4 linked regions of the Homo sapiens genome follow. The protein of the gene in region 1 purifies or fractionates together with the protein of each later gene. This does not show direct contact. Each region holds a gene or a part of one and is shown on either strand. Other genes may lie near its edges.

What was found. Proteins that work in one complex are often made in the same cells at the same time.
Region 2: the proteins of MEF2A (region 1) and REV3L purify together in Homo sapiens (affinity purification with mass spectrometry; one large-scale study listed by BioGRID and IntAct). This does not show direct contact.
Region 3: the proteins of MEF2A (region 1) and ZCWPW1 purify together in Homo sapiens (affinity purification with mass spectrometry; one large-scale study listed by BioGRID and IntAct). This does not show direct contact.
Region 4: the proteins of MEF2A (region 1) and ATF7 purify together in Homo sapiens (affinity purification with mass spectrometry; one large-scale study listed by BioGRID and IntAct). This does not show direct contact.

The regions. Positions count from the first base shown.
Region 1 is NC_000015.10:99,568,118-99,573,718, reverse strand, and holds part of MEF2A (myocyte-specific enhancer factor 2A), read right to left. Parts: intron 4,779-5,601; exon of another isoform or gene 4,740-4,778; intron 1-4,739. UniProt on the Homo sapiens protein: Transcriptional activator which binds specifically to the MEF2 element, 5'-YTA[AT](4)TAR-3', found in numerous muscle-specific genes. Also involved in the activation of numerous growth factor- and stress-induced genes.
Region 2 is NC_000006.12:111,367,888-111,371,718, reverse strand, and holds part of REV3L (DNA polymerase zeta catalytic subunit), read left to right. Parts: intron 1-3,690; coding exon 3,691-3,831. UniProt on the Homo sapiens protein: Catalytic subunit of the DNA polymerase zeta complex, an error-prone polymerase specialized in translesion DNA synthesis (TLS). Lacks an intrinsic 3'-5' exonuclease activity and thus has no proofreading function.
Region 3 is NC_000007.14:100,400,041-100,402,537, forward strand, and holds the end of ZCWPW1 (zinc finger CW-type PWWP domain protein 1), read right to left. Parts: coding exon 2,476-2,497; intron 2,002-2,475; coding exon 1,849-2,001; intron 1,743-1,848; coding exon of another isoform or gene 1,738-1,742; exon of another isoform or gene 1,297-1,737; coding exon 974-1,296; 3' UTR 832-973; downstream 1-831. UniProt on the Homo sapiens protein: Dual histone methylation reader specific for PRDM9-catalyzed histone marks (H3K4me3 and H3K36me3). Facilitates the repair of PRDM9-induced meiotic double-strand breaks (DSBs). Essential for male fertility and spermatogenesis.
Region 4 is NC_000012.12:53,511,223-53,514,968, forward strand, and holds the end of ATF7 (cyclic AMP-dependent transcription factor ATF-7), read right to left. Parts: 3' UTR 832-3,746; downstream 1-831. UniProt on the Homo sapiens protein: Stress-responsive chromatin regulator that plays a role in various biological processes including innate immunological memory, adipocyte differentiation or telomerase regulation.

The DNA of each region.
Region 1 (5,601 bases):
GCTGAATTAGTAATGTATTTCATGTATACTGTGTTAATTTCCATAAGGTTCCCCCCTCAACTTGGAGCTTTTCTATAAACATATGAAATTAGTTGGATAAGCTAGAGGGAAGTAATAGGGCCAGAAGGGATGTTGGTTAGTAATGAACAACAGAGATATGCATTTCAAACTGGAAATACTTCCCTCAGACAAGATGGCTACTCAGTGCCCAGCAAGAAAGCAAAATAGAATCTGAGGAAATGCCCCTTGTGCTCCACAGCTCTCAAATTCCTGCCCTTAGAATAATGACCGTATGTTAATAGAAAACACATAAAGTAAGATTATAATTTGGAAAGTACCTTTATGATTTTTAAAGTGTGATTTGGGAAAACTGGTCTGTGGTTGGTTATTTCCGTTGATTAGGACAACTTCTTTTTTTTTTTTTTTTTTTTTGAGACGGAGTCTCGCTGTTGCCCAGGCTGGAGTGCAGTGGCGCGATCTTGGCTCACTGCAGGCTCCGCCTCCCAGGGTTCACGCCATTCTCCTGCCTCAGCCTCCCGCATAGCTGGGACTACTGGTGCCCACCACCACGCCCGGCTAATTTTTTGTATTTTTAGTAGAGATGGGGTTTCACTGTGTTAGCCAGGATGGTCTCGATCTCCTGACCTCGTGAATCGCCCGCCTCGGCCTCCCAAAGTGCTGGGATTACAGGCGTGAGCCACCGCGCCCGGCCGATTAGGACAACTTCTACTCAATTCAACATTTACTGAGAATTCACTATATCTACTATAATAGGTTGGTTGGTAGATACTGAGCACACAAAAGAGCCAGCTGGTCCTTGACATAGCAATTCAGCCTAATAGAAGACAGTGACATCAATTATATTCAAATAATCAAATAATATTCTAAATACCTAACATGGGATTTACTCTACAAATAGTGCATGTATCATGGGCTTTAGAAGCACACAAGAGCAAGAGCAAAAAACTTTTGTCTAGGAGATTAAAACTGGTATCACAGATGACATCTGAGCTAAGACTTAAAGGATAAGTAGTTCAATAACTATAACTATGTGTGCAAGACAGCATTCCAATCATTGGCAAAAAACAGGAACAAAGATACAGAAGCATCAAATATTTACTATCTTCCAAATGCCAGGCGGCATGCTAATGCCTGGGGATACAGCTAAGAGTAAGATGAACAAGGCCTCTGCCTTTATGGAGTTTACATTCAGGTAATGGACAAATACCATAAATAAGCAATAACTAAACAAACCAGGTATACACAAATTACAATTGTCTTGAAGGAAATAATCTGTGTAAGAGAGTAAAATGACAGACTGCAATATTAAATAGGATGGTCAGATTAGGCCTCTGAGTGAGAAGTGAGATTTGGGCCAAACTCCAAAGTGTTTAGCCAAGCCAGACATTTGAAGAATATCCCAAGGAGGGAGTACAGAAAGTGCAAAAGGCCCTAGAAGAAAAAAGGGTGCAGAGGGTTTAAGAAACACTGAGAGGCCTTCGTGGCTGACATGTGATGAATGAGGGGAAGAATGATGAGAAGGAGAAAGCTCATTCAGGGCCATTTAGGCCACAGAATGGAGGACTTGATTTTGAGAGGAATGGGAAGTCACCAGAAGATTTTAAGCAGAGAAATGATATGATCCAATATAGGCTCTTAAAATAATTCTCAGGCTGCTGTGTGAAGAAAAAAAAAAAAAAAAAAACTTCTATGGAGCAAGAAGAAAAAGAAGCAGCCCACTTAGAAAATTACTGCAGTACTTCATGCAAGAGAATGATGGCTTCAAATAAAGAGGTGGCAACGAAGACTAAGAGCAGTGGACTGCTCAAGGCAAATTGTGAAGGTGCAACAGGACGTGGGGATGGATTGGACTTAAGAGAAATGGAAAGAATCAAGAATAATATCTTAAGTTTTTGGCTTGGGTACTGCCATTTATGGATATGGGGAATGCCAGCAGAGACACCAGGGTTTAGGGGTAGGAAGAAGGTTGGGGGAAGAGGGAAAAATAGCTATATTTTACCCACATCATTTATATTATACTTGAGATTCCAACTAGACTTCCAAGTGAATATCAAACTCAAGAGAAGTCTGGGCTGGGAAAATAAAAGTAGTAGTCATCAGTATGAAAACATATGGCCTTTTCAGATTAGCGCTAATAGCTGGCTTTGACTAGGGCATAGAAACTGAAAGGTGATGGCTGAAAATGAGCCTCAAAAGACACGATGGAATCATATTATAAAGTGAGCCATGACTAACAGCAATAGCAGTAGTAGTAACGATAGTAATGGTAGGAGGAAAATTAATGCAGGTTATATACCAGGCACTGCACTTTATAATACACACCTCATTTAATCCTCTCAAAAACTGTATGAAATAATGTTATAATTACTATTTTATACACTAAGCCTCAAAAATCATAAGAACTTGCTGAAGAACACAAAGTGCAAGTAACTAAATAAGAACACAGTAAGAACAGTGGGTATTTTAACTTAGGATGGGAAGTCTGTTGTTGTTGTTGTTGTTTTTTTTTTTTTGGAGATGGAGTCTCATTCTATCACCCAGGCTGGAGTGCAGTGGCACGATCTCGGCTCACTGCAACCTCTGCCTCCTGGGTTCAAGCGATTCTCGTGCCTAAGCCTCCAGAGTGGCGGGATAACAGGTGTGAGCCACTATGCCCGGCTAATTTTTGTATTTTTAGTGGAAACGGGGTTTCACCACGTTGGCCAGGTTGGTCTCAAACTCCCGACCTCAGGTGATCTGCCCGCCTCCACCTCCCAAAGTTCTGGAATTACAGGCATGAGCCACCGCGCCCAGCCAGGAAGTCTGATTTTACAGGCCAATCTTCTATCCCTTACATTACTGCCACTCTATTGATCTCATACGCCTTCAAAAGTTGTTTTTTTTTTTTTCTTTAAGAAGAAATGACATATAGATCTGAATTTTAGAAATATAATTCCAATTTCTATGTAGAAGATGGACAGCTAAGGATGAGGACGAGAGGTGAAACAGGCAAATATAGTATTAGTCAATGCAAGAGCCGCTTGTTTTATTAAGCCCAAAAGTTACAATTTCTTTTACCAGGTCGAATGGGAAGCAGCCCTTTGTTCCAAGTGTCACAAATCATGCCTCAAATGAATCCACGTCAACCTGCACATGCATGCTGCTGGTCACGCAAGTAACAAAGTAAAAATGTCCAGCTCATGCAGTATAAACTTACTGACCACTACTGAAAACCTTTCTCAAGCATATAATTTTAATAATGGTGAGAATTTTTTTAAGTCCATATATTAAAGGTTTTTGTTTTGTTTTTGCTTTGTTTCCTTTTTATGTTTTCATGTTTTCTTGTTTATTTTGTTTTTGAAGTTTGTATTTTTGTGTAAGGAAGTAAAATTAGTATTAATTCAAGACAACCATAAAAAGACATGCCCGGGTTGGTATTTACTAGAAGTTTGATTAATTAATATGTTTTTCACCCATGTTTGTTCCTCTGGCTTTTATCAACATCACTTGTTAAAATAATGATGAAGTAAATTACCTGCCTTCATACACCAATGTTTAAATATGGTATTCCACCTCACAAAGGAGCTAATATTTTTAACTCATATGCTTATGATTTCATCTCGACTAAGATAATTAATAATTAAAATATTAAATTCAGTAAATATCAATTAAATTCTGTAAATATAAATATTATTAAAGTATAAAGCATCTATATAAAAATTTAGTACTTATTAAATAAGTACCAACCTATATCGTGTGCTATGTGTAAGATTTACTAATTAACAAATGGATTTACACTCTTAATTATAATAAACTGGACACAAGGTCCATTTATTATAAGGCACACAGATAAACTATACACGAGAAAATCATTAATTTCACACCAAATCAAAGTATTTTAAAAATTACAGATTAACTAAAGTTACTTTAAAATATTAAAATAACCTTCAATATTAAAATATTTAAAAACTTTTCTTCAGAAATTAAGCTATTTTAAAATACCTATTCAAGGTAGATTACAGAAGTATTCTTCTAACTTTAAATTTCAAATACTATATCTTAGAGACCACTCCCACAGTCAATCCCTAAAAGACAGAATTCACTGAAGATTGGGAAACTATTTATATTTAACTTGAATCTTTAGAAAAATATTTGGGGAGATTATGGAGATTAGAAACAAACTATGGTTGAAGATCAAAATTCTAATGTTTTAAAACAGCCAATTAAGCGTTTTATGTATAATCTGACAATGAATTTAAGATGCTGGGATATTTTATCCAAAACAAACACATTAAGCATTCTCTATTGATACATTATACGAAATCCTTTTGGTCACAAACACTAAACGTATGGGTACTGGGCAGGGTACCTACATAATCTTCAGAGGAAAGAAGAAACAAAAGCCAGAAGGGATGCAGGGAGATCAGGCAATACGCATTTTCGCACATGAAGCTTCACGCAGTGTGTTAGAACTTTTACACTCGCTATCTCATTTAATTCCAACACGGGGCAGGTAGTGTAATTCTATCTCATTTTACAGGAGATATCTCAACTCTGTCAGCAGTGGAGCTGGATCTGAATCAAGATCTGACTACAGAGTCAAGCAGCCTTCCTTTACTGGGGCTTGCAAATCAGCATATGTTAAAAGCATTCTCTTGCACGAGGTTATCCAGCTTAAAGGGTGATCTGATTTCCATATTTACACTTATTATTTAAACATTAGGAGAGAAGGCACTCACTTCTCCATTTACTAAGAATCCACAGATTTTCTTTCTTATCTAGAAAAAAGAAATAGTGATCATTTTTGGTCCACAAATGGTTTTCTCATAGTGTCATCGCATAAAAGAAAACTTCAGCTAGACTTTGAAACATTCATATGTACCATGAGTAACCGGGGTATGGTCTGATGACAACACAGAATATGTGAAATTAGAAATGCCCCCAAATCCAGGCCCATCATCATCGTATATTACACTACATTCTTCTTGCCAGACTAAAAGCAGCAAAGGGAGGAAAAAAGATGGTTTTCCAAACTGACAAGCATGCTATTTTTCAGTAACAAATTTGTTCATGGCTTCTTCCTCCTAAATCAGAACACAAATCTACTGAAAAGATTTAGCTAGACTATTTCAAACTCCAAAATCATATTCTAATAAACATTTCCATAATTTCTTAACCACCCTCAGAATATAATTCAATATTCCTCTTTTTGGTAGCCAATTAATGGATGACACTGCTATTGCTGGAATATTAATAAAATTAATATTAACCCACAATGCATGATGGAAAAGGCAAATTGTAACGAAATTGCTTTGAAAAACATAACATCACCATTTGAAACAACTCAACCTTTTTAAGAGATTATTTCCAACTGCATTTACAAAAAAAAATCCTTGTCACACATACCCATATGAAAACAAACTCTAAGAATACAGAAGGAAATTATTCTCAAACCATAATTCAACATGGTGACATTACAATTATTTCTGGGTGTCAATAAGCTATTTTCCTTCCACTGAACACCCCCCAGAATTTAATTTTTTAAAAAACTTTTGAAGGCAAGTAAAGTGTAATTTTAACACTTTTGTTCTAATATGAAAT
Region 2 (3,831 bases), on another chromosome or scaffold:
GGTGGCAGGTGCCTGTAATCCCAGCTGCCTAGGAGGCTGAGACAGGAGAATCACTTGAACCCAGGAGGTGGAGGTTGTAGTGAGCTGAGATCACGCCACTGCACTTTGTTGCCTGGGCAATAAAGAGTGAAACTCCATCTCAGAAAAAAAAAAAAAAAAAGATAGCTGGGCATGGTGGCATGCACCTGTGGTCCCAGCTACTCAGGAGGCTAAGGAAGGAGAATCACTTGAGCCCAGGATGTCAAGGCTGCAGTGAGCTGTGTTCACGCCGCTGCATTCCAGCTTGGGCAATAGAATGAGACTTTATCTCAAAAAAAAAATCTCTTCAGGGAATTGATAGACAAACATGTGAGCGCACGCACACACACAGCAAATAGCAAAATAGAAATCAGAGTACTGGTTTATTTATCAGTAGTTAAGTAGTTATGGTGTATACCACTTTCATCACCAAGTTAGGACATAACTGATGAAAGCTAAATTGGGTAATGTGGCTTAATCCAGAAAGTTTAAATGATGGCTCTTGTTCCTGCCCTTGTGTCCATGATCTCATATACTTAACCAGTTGCAGAGCAGGCAGTTCATTTCAGCCATCCATTCAGAAGCAGAAGAGGATGGCTGGAACTGCTAAGGCAGGCCCTGCCTTAGTCTAAATCTTGGAAAGAGATAGGAAAAGCAGCAGAGGACACACTGCATGTATGCACTGACCTGTGGCAGTACCATGTTCCTGACTCCAGTGGGAAAAAAAAAAAAGAAAGATACAATATGAATATTACACATTTGTTCAAAGCCATAGAAAGTACCACACCAAGAACAAACCCAAATGTAATCTGTGGACTTTGGACAATTATGATGTGTCAACATAGGTTCATCGATTGTAACACATGTACCACTCTGGTAGGGGATGGTGATAATGAGGGAGGCCATGTATGTGTGGGGGCACAAGGGATATATGGGAAACTTCTGTACCTTCCTTTCAATTTTGCTGTCAACCTAAAGCTGTTAAAATATCTTTTTAAAAAAGTTTAAATTAAAAAAACACGACAGTGAATGCCAGGCTTTTACCCAGCAGATTCACAATAATTCCTATAGGAATCCATTTAAGAAAGGGTTGAGAATGTGAAATGATGGATATGTTAATTTGTTTCACTGTAAGAACCATTTTACTATATACTAATATCATATTTTATACCTTAAATATACACAATAAAATTTATTTTTTTAATAAAGGGGTGAGAAAAGGTTATCAGAAATGCAGAATAAAAGTTCTCTCCTGTAATGACTTGAAGTGAAAGGTAGAAATGTCCACCTCCCAGCCCCTTTTCAACACACAGTTTTGTTTAGTACCCACATGGAACTCTTTATTTCACTGCTGGAGCATATGAAATCTGTTCTTTAGACGTTAGTTTCCATCATTTTGGGGACTTTGGTGTTATTAGTAGTGATTATGGTATATTTACTTTTAGTTACCAAACTTTATGTGCTAGTCATTACCTTTGTGTTGTTGTTATTGTCCAACTTTGACACTTGTCCTGCAGCTAAAATAAAAAATAATCATTTTTGAAAAATATTTTTGAAATATGAAACTGTAGGCCGGGCACGGTGGCTCACGCCTGTAATCCCAGCACTTTGGGAGGCCAAGGTGGGCAGATCACAAGGTCAGGAGATCGAGACCATCCTGGCCAACATGGTGAAACCCCATCTCTACTAAAAATACAAAAATTAGCTGGGCATGGTGGCATGAGTCTGTAATCCTACTCGGGAGGCTGAGGCAGGAGAATCACTTGAACCAGGGAGTCAGAGGTTGCAGTGAGCTGAGATCGCACCACTGCACTCCAGCCTGGTGACACAGCAAGACTGTCTCAAAAAAAAAAAATGAAACTGTATATTCAATATAGAAAATTTAGGAAGTATGAAAGAAGAAAAAATAAAAATTACATCATTTTTCCATGTAGTAACAGCCACCATAATATTTTGATGTGTATTCTGTTTTCTTTTTTAAAAAGTATAGTTTTTAGTTTGTTTTGTTTTGTGAAGTGTGATCTTACTATAGTCACAGTATTATATCCAAATTTTTCACTTAACATTATATTGTAAACATTTTCCAAATGAGTTTCTTGAATATTTTAATCGCTGCATATGTTGCATCATGTATATATTATTGGACAGAAAGGTTGTTTGCAATTTTGCCACTATAGATATTATGTATATTATTATGTATGTTAAGAAGATATTAGCATTTTCTTCTTAAAGCATTTCTTGTATTTTGGAGTTTTTCCTTATAGCCCTAGAAGTAGGATTACTGAAAAATTTAAGGCTCTTGATACATATTAGGAGATTTTTTTTCCCAGTGGGTTATAGCAATTACCATGCTGCTGACAATATGTAAGAAAACTGAATTCACCACACCTCACCATTTTTTTTTTTTTTTTTTTTTTTTGAGACAGAGTCTGGCTCTGTCACCCAGGTTGGAGTGCAGTGGCGTGATTTCGGCTCACTGCAAGGTCCGCCTCCCTGGTTCACGCCATTCTCCTGCCTCAGCCTCCCGACACCTCACCATTTTTTATTCTTGACCTCATTATGACTTCTCTATCCTTAGTATTAGAGTTGGGTATGGTCACTTGGTATGTGTATTCATTTCCTTCAACAGCATTAATTCTGTTTCTGTTTTTTCACATTGCCAAGAGTGGATGCAGGGACAGTGCTGGATGCTGGTTATGGAGTTAACTAGTAGGGGCTTAAGTCTTTTCATATAAAGGAGACAGAGTAGCCCTAATGCTCTTCTTTCAGCTTCAAATCTGAAAACATGATCCAGTTAGTGGATTTTACATAGAGAGTGATGGGGACATTTGGGGAATCATGCCCTAAGAGAAGTGATTGAAAAAACTATGAATTAACTTTATATCCATAATAAAGTTAACATGAAGAAGTAGAATTATTTTATGTTGCTGTAGTAAGCAGAAATAGTATCAAGGGATTGGAGAAAGACAGAGGTTTCACTTAATATTTATAACTATTGGAAATGAAACCAGACTGTTTTCATTAGTGATTTCCCACATATTCATGCATTGGTAACATTTAAGCCATGCATCCTGTGGGCTCTGCCAGCTCCTAAGTTATGTCAGTGTTAATCCCTGCCATGGAATGGGAAGAAAGAATTAGAGTAATTTACCTCAGTTGGTATTTTTTTTAATGTTTAAGGGAATTTGAGAGTACGAAGATTCATTTGAATTGACTGGCTTTGTTAAACTACAGATACTGGAGAATATAGGAAGAAGCTATGAATAATATCCAGGGACATAGTATTTGAATGATAAATTCATTGTTTTTATTCATATGTGGTAATAATGGAAAATTTATTTTAAGATTAGGAGAGGAAAGGAATCTGAAAAGTTTGTGTCATCTCCTTGAAGGACAGAAGGCTTCATGGGGCATTAAAATAAAACAAAAAATACCTTCTCTCCCTAAGATTAATGGTACCTTCCAAAGGAAATTAAGTAGTAGTCATATACCTGTGAGGAAAAGCATATTGAGACTAAAGATAGAATGTACCTGCACAATATAGAGGGGGCAGGGAAGATAGACATGGACATTTTTGAGACTCCAAAAGGGACTTTATCTAGGATATGGAGTTAAATATTTTGGTAATTGCTCTTTGAAACAAAACAGTTGTTCTAAAATATGTTATTATAGGGAGATTGGTGGACGGCTCCTCATGGTAGAAACTCGACTTGCAAATGATCTGGCTGAGTTTGAGGGAGACTTTTCCTTGGAAGGACTTCGTCTTTGGAAAACAGCATTCTCAGCAATGACTCAGAATCCAAGGCCAGGGTC
Region 3 (2,497 bases), on another chromosome or scaffold:
GAGATGCCATCTCTAGTTAAAAATATATATTAACAATAAAGTAACAAATTTAAAAAGATTGTCTTCAAAACTATTTTTAAAATCTGCATCCATTCAAGTACAGAGAGAAACAAGTAAAAATAAGACTGCACAATGACCTTCTTACGAGTACGCTACGCTTCCAATAGAAAGGGCCACAGCTTCCAGCAATAACCAAGGCCACACAGATGACTCAGAGGCCAGCCAGAGAACTGACAGAAAGAGAGCCATCTACTCCAACTCCCTCTTCACCTTCCCAACCCTGGCCCATAAAACTAAAAGTACCCCCAAAACTTACCTGAATGTAAGGAGAAAACTGACATCACCTTCAACTCCTGTCTCTCCCACTGAAAATGAATTCTAACAGAGAACTCACACCCAAGACCCTTCCTCTAGTACTTTTTTTAGTGACTTCCTTGGGCCAGGGAACATAAGCCCCCAAACCTTGGTAGCCAGCCCAAACCCAAAGCCTGTCCTCAAATCCGATCACAGTCTTCCCTATGGTGACAATGAGAGCATCACATTTGACATCATTCACAACCCTATAAGGTAGAGAACGCACTCGCTGTAAGATGAAGAGCAGAACCAGGATGGTGAACATGCTTTTCCCCAGGCCATGGAGGTAGCTAGTGAGGAGCCGAGCCCGGATTTGAACCCAGATCTGCCCTTCTTGAAGTCCTCTAGGACTCAGGTCTCACTGCCTTCCCCAGATGCCTGCACTGTGCAGGCTCCCGCTAGAAGCAGTGACGCGCCACAGTGACACGGAGGAGGGAGAGCAGCCAACAGGGGGCAGTTAGAGACCAGCCAACCCAGTCGACTGTAACCTGCTTTATTAACACAGAAACTGCACCACACACATTTGAACCTCATAGCCAATGAACAGACCCAGCACTTAGCAACTTCTCCCTCCTGCGCCCCAGAGAAGGGAGAAAAAGAGGGAGCAGAGGAGCACCAGCTACTTCCCAAACAGCGCCACGGGGAAGTCCTCGCCATCACTGTTGCTGTGCTGCAGCTCCCCGCTCTGCCCCAGCTCTCTCCCAACATCTTCCATGAGTTGCTCCAGGTCCAGGTCACTGGAGGCTTCGTCCTCAAGGGGGACACTTCCAGCCTCCTGGGTCAGGGGTTCCCGGTGTCTGGGCTCTTCTTTCGCAGATGAGGGGCAGGCCCCCTTACACGCTGATAGGCCCAGGTTCTTTGGCACTGTTCTAACTTCTTTTCCCTCTGAAAAGCTGGCTGCCAAGGCCTTGCTCTGGGGAGCTTTAAATTTTTTCTTAGGGCCTAAATGAGAAGGTGACAAAGCCAAGAGTCCTATTAGGTCAGCCTGTCCTTACCTTTTATAAGTCAAACTCCTAAATCTCTATTTCCAAGAAATCTCTGGAAAAGATGACCTTTCTCAATACAAAGAATATGGACTTTGGGATCAGAAAGAGAGTCAAGCCGTCTGCCCTATGCTAGTCACCAGCCTTGAGCACTTTTTAAATCCTTTGAGCCTCAGTTTTCTAATATCTAAAATGGGAATATCCAGTGAGAGAGCTATTGAAAAAAATTTAAAGGAGCAGGCATGGAAGTATCTCTTTAGCCAGCCCTTGGCAATACTGATTAAGTGTTACTTCTCTTCTACCATTCTCCTGCCCCTGGGCCAAATCAAATCAGGAATCATTCTGTTTCTATAGTGTGTGCTGGGTGCAGTCCGAGACGCTCTTTCATTCTAATTTTCATTCATTCTGTAAAGTAATGAAAAGCTGTAAAATGGTTAAGAAATGATTCAGGGAGGGGAGATGCTGACAGGCACCTCATTCCCCTTAGTTTTTCCCAGGCCTTGAGCCTTACCTGGCTGGTCAGAATCTGAATTCCCTTGGCCTTCTTTCCTTCCCATTCTGGGTGCAGGAGGAGCTGTGGATTTCCTGCCTAGAGATCTCTTCATTATCTTCCTCTGCAGTGTCCTGCCTCGGCCATCTGCTGTGCCTGCATCACCCCCAAGCCCTAGCCGTGAGGGAAATGCGTTTATTTCTCTCTAAACGACAACTCGGCAAGGGCAGATGGACACTGCACATTGAGTTTCTGCCCTGCCCCACATCTTCTGCTCAGTTGCAATCTAGTGAGTTTTCCTGGTGGCCTCTGGCTCTTTTTCAACATCTTTTCCCCCCAATTCTCTTTTTTTCTTTTATCCCCTGGATCTTCTTCTCTTTACAGTTCTCCTCAGAGTCTACCTTCTCCAGAAAGCCATCCTTCTTGGCTAAGAAATTAAAACCTTCCATCTTTCACCTCAGATTTTATAATTCAGTACAGAGAAGCAAAGGGGTTCCAGCTCCCCATGACACTATGGGTGAGTGTTGCCTGTTTTCTCAGGTCCTGGCACTGAGATGGGCAGTGAGGTCCAGCTACCTGCAGACTCCCTCTCTACCACTTCCCTGCCTTAACTGTGGGTTGTGCTCCATTTCCAGCTGGCCTGCTTACCTCTTGGCTTGGTTTTTTGGGT
Region 4 (3,746 bases), on another chromosome or scaffold:
GAGCATTACCTGTTTTTCTTGTGAACTCTTACCTGCTTTTTTTGAGATGGAGTTTCACTCTTGTTGCCCAGGCTGGAGTGCAACGGCACGATCTTAGCTTACTGCAACCTCTGCCTCCCAGGTTCAAGTGATTCTCCTGCCTCAGCCTCCTGAGTAGCTGGGATTACAGGCGCCCGCCACCAACACCTGGCTAATTTTTGTATTTTTAGTAGAGACGGGGTTTCTCCATGTTGGCCAGGCTGGTCTCAAACTCCTGACCTCAGGTGATCAACCCGCCTCAGCCTCCCAAAGTGCTGGGATTACAGGCATGAGCCACCATGCCCGGTTTTCTTACCTGCTTCTAAGTAAACTCTACCCCTCATTTCCAGACCAGCCTCCTCCTTACCATAGAAAGCTATACTTTCCGTCTTTGTCTGTGTGTGTGCTCCCTGGTCACAACAGCCACTTTTTAATGGTTGGGTGGGGGTTGGCAACAAAACACTGAAAAGTAAAAGGCCATTTGCCATCAGCAACTCTCCCACCCGCCATCCACATAAAGCACATACTAAGTTTCCTGTGAGTACTTGCTGCCAGGATGCCAAGGGCCCTTGTCTCCAAGGCAGTCCACAGGAGCTCTGCCCTGGGCCTTCTGTCATACTTTGTAATTTATAGAAATCATCCACTTTCTCTAGGCTGTATCTCCCATGTATAAAAACTAGAGACAAAAATCCCTGTTCCTTCTGTCCTAAGAAATGGGGGAGTGATGAAGATGACAGACATGAAAGGCCAGTGACCTCCCAGAAAAGGGGACAATGGGGGCTGTGGATAGAGGAGTGAAGCATCAGACATAACAGTGGTTCACTTGATAGTTTAATGTTATATTTGCAGCATAAATAAGGCACAATATATGCCAGGGCAAGGGAGGGAGGGAGAAGGCATAGCTGGGGGGATAACTGCTAAGTGGCAAGGGGGAAAGGAAGACAGTATGGTTAGGGAGAATAGAGCGAAGCCCCTGCCTCAGCCCAGTCCCAGGAGATTGTGAGAACCAGCTCACAGGGATCATGCTGAATCAGGTGGAGGGGAAAAGGGAAAAGACAGTTTTGTAACAAAAAACAAAATAGCCTGCAGCACTGCATCCTCCTACCTGTCAAAGGCCACCACTGGGCACTGGGGAGACCCAGACCGAGTTGAGTTCCTTGATAAGATGGAGAGGTGTTGCTACATGTCAAAAATATATAGATGAACAGAGATATAATCATAGATACACACTGCTTCCTTTTCAATAGATACTATGTTAGGATGTGGCAGCCTCCACTCTTGGGGCTGGAAGCTCATCTCCTCCCTGCCTGAAAGGTGTGTGTGTTGTAGGGGGAGGAATGGGACAGCTGAAGCTTGGCTGGTCCTTACTGTAACAGAGAACATGGAGTGACCAGTCTGCAAGGGAATATGGGACAACTCCTGTCCAGACCAATGCATGGTTTTAGGGATACGACTAAAATGAAGACAAATCTAGCTTTTGAGATCAGTGATATGATGGGGAAGACTTTAAAGGGAATGGAGGAAGAGACTGAAAGAAATGAAAGCATGTTAGTGCAAAGGCAAAAGATGTATTTGAAATATCCTCCACACCTGTAAAAATTTCCCAGCTTATCCCTAAGAAATGGTTCTCAACCTTTAGTGTGCATTAGAATCACTTGGAGTGCTTTTAAACCCTGCCCCCAGAGTCTGTGATTCAATAAGTCTGGGATGGGGCCTGAGAATGTGTATTTCTAACAAGTTCCCAGATTACTGTGGCACTGCCCTAAGGTAAAGTCAGTGAAACTATTGCTCATAGCCACTTCTTACAGCTAAAACATCACTCACCAGTAGCTACTGCTGGTGAGATAACTCTGTGCTATTAGCCCCCCATTAAAAAAATAAACCCTAGTAGCTATGATACAAACCTACATCTACAGAGGACATAAGCTCCTTTAACCTGCCCTACTCTCCCCAGCCTTTTCTCATTCTGGGGTAGGACTTTACCCCAAAGAGAGACAACACAGCTGATGCAGACGGTGGTAATGGTGGCCAGCAGCCACCTACGCTCATTCCTGCTAGGTAACCACCTTGGTATGGGGTGGGGGAATTTATGTCTGTATGCACATTTGTGTGTACAAACAGACACAGAGAAATCAGTCCTGTACTATGAGAGGGATGACTAGAGTTATGGGAGGCTGTAGTGGGGTGGAGGGAGTCCTTTAATCTGCCTTAGGATCCCCACCTTTCCTGTTCTTCCAGACACCCCCACCCCCGTCAAACATTAAGTCTAAAGAAAGCAGAAAGAGCATATCAACAAGGCATATGTGATATAGCTAGGAAGACTGGAATCTAAACAGGCTGGTTATGAAATTTAAAAAAAATAATGTATTTCCTTCCTGTGTATATAATGTACAATATTAATGAAAAATTAATGATTTGGGGATGGGAAGGAAGTTATGAAAAAAGGAGAAAACTGGCGGGGATAGCTGTATCAGGGGCTAGCACCTTTAAGGAGCCTCTCAGTGTGGAGCAGGGGAGCCCCAGAAACCACAGGAAGAATTTTTTTGGTGTCTGTTTGGTGGTTCAGGCTGTACATAGGGCACGGTTGGGGTTAAGCACTCCATCTACCAGGATGGGTGGTGCTAGAGGGCAGTGAATCAAGAAAGGAGCCAAAACCAACAGAACAGGGATAGAGAAGTGAGCGAGAGGAGGTTCAGTTTGCTCAGTCCCTCTTTAACCACTACTTAGAGTACATGGTCTAATGCTTAGGGCCAAGGAGGGAGGTGAAGGCTAAGGAAGTCAGATTTGAGATGCATAACCAGCAGCAAAAGAGTAAGTAAAGGGGGCATGACTTTTTTTTTGTTGGCCTCTCTAGTATTGTGGGAGGCTTTCTTAGACTTTTCAACTCTAAGCAAACTTTCTGTTAGGGGAATGGGGCAGAAAGTGAGCAGACCAGAAGACCTGGTTCTGTCCCCTCCCTCTGTGGCCTTGGGTACGTGGCAGCTAGCTAGAGTGCTTGTGTATCGAGCACTCACATTGGAGTGGGGTGGGAAGCCTGAGTCCTGTATTCACATGAACGAATTCAGGACACCCACCATACACTCAGCTCCTTTCTGAAAGTGTCCTCCCTTAGGCCTCTAGAAACGCCATGGACTTTAGGAAGGGCCAAGTGACACCTTCCATGATGTTTGGTTCTGGTCCAGATGGATCTGGAAGACAAAGATTTGGGGAGAGTGACCACATGGCTGGTAGCAATAACAAGGTAAGTGAAGTTACCTTTGACTATCAGAGAAGTTTCAGGGCAGCAATTATTCTGCCTCCTTAGTGAGACTGAGAACCAACTCAAGAACTATCTAGGGGGTTCTGACCTGCTGCTTCCTTATTTCAGTGCCATTTTGTTACTGTGGTTCTGGCAGTGCTCCTCACTGAGGTCCCGTACACATCTTCCCACTGATAAAAATGAAGTTAGGACTAGATAATTAGTCATGGGGGCTAAGAAATAAAAAAGACCCGCTACATAAATTAGCCACCCAACACAGGGACAGACTGGCAGGGCATGTATGCAGTTACAAATTAATTCTTAACTGTAAAAACACTTGACTGAAGGGGGAAGAAAAATAGTCAAGAGTCTTAGGAAAGCTCCTTAGGAGCCATAAACTCAGTCAAGCTTTAGGGCAAGGCTGCTACTGGGAAATCAAGACAATAAAAAAATGAAACAAAACTCTAAAGCAGGAGAAAATCCCAGGGAG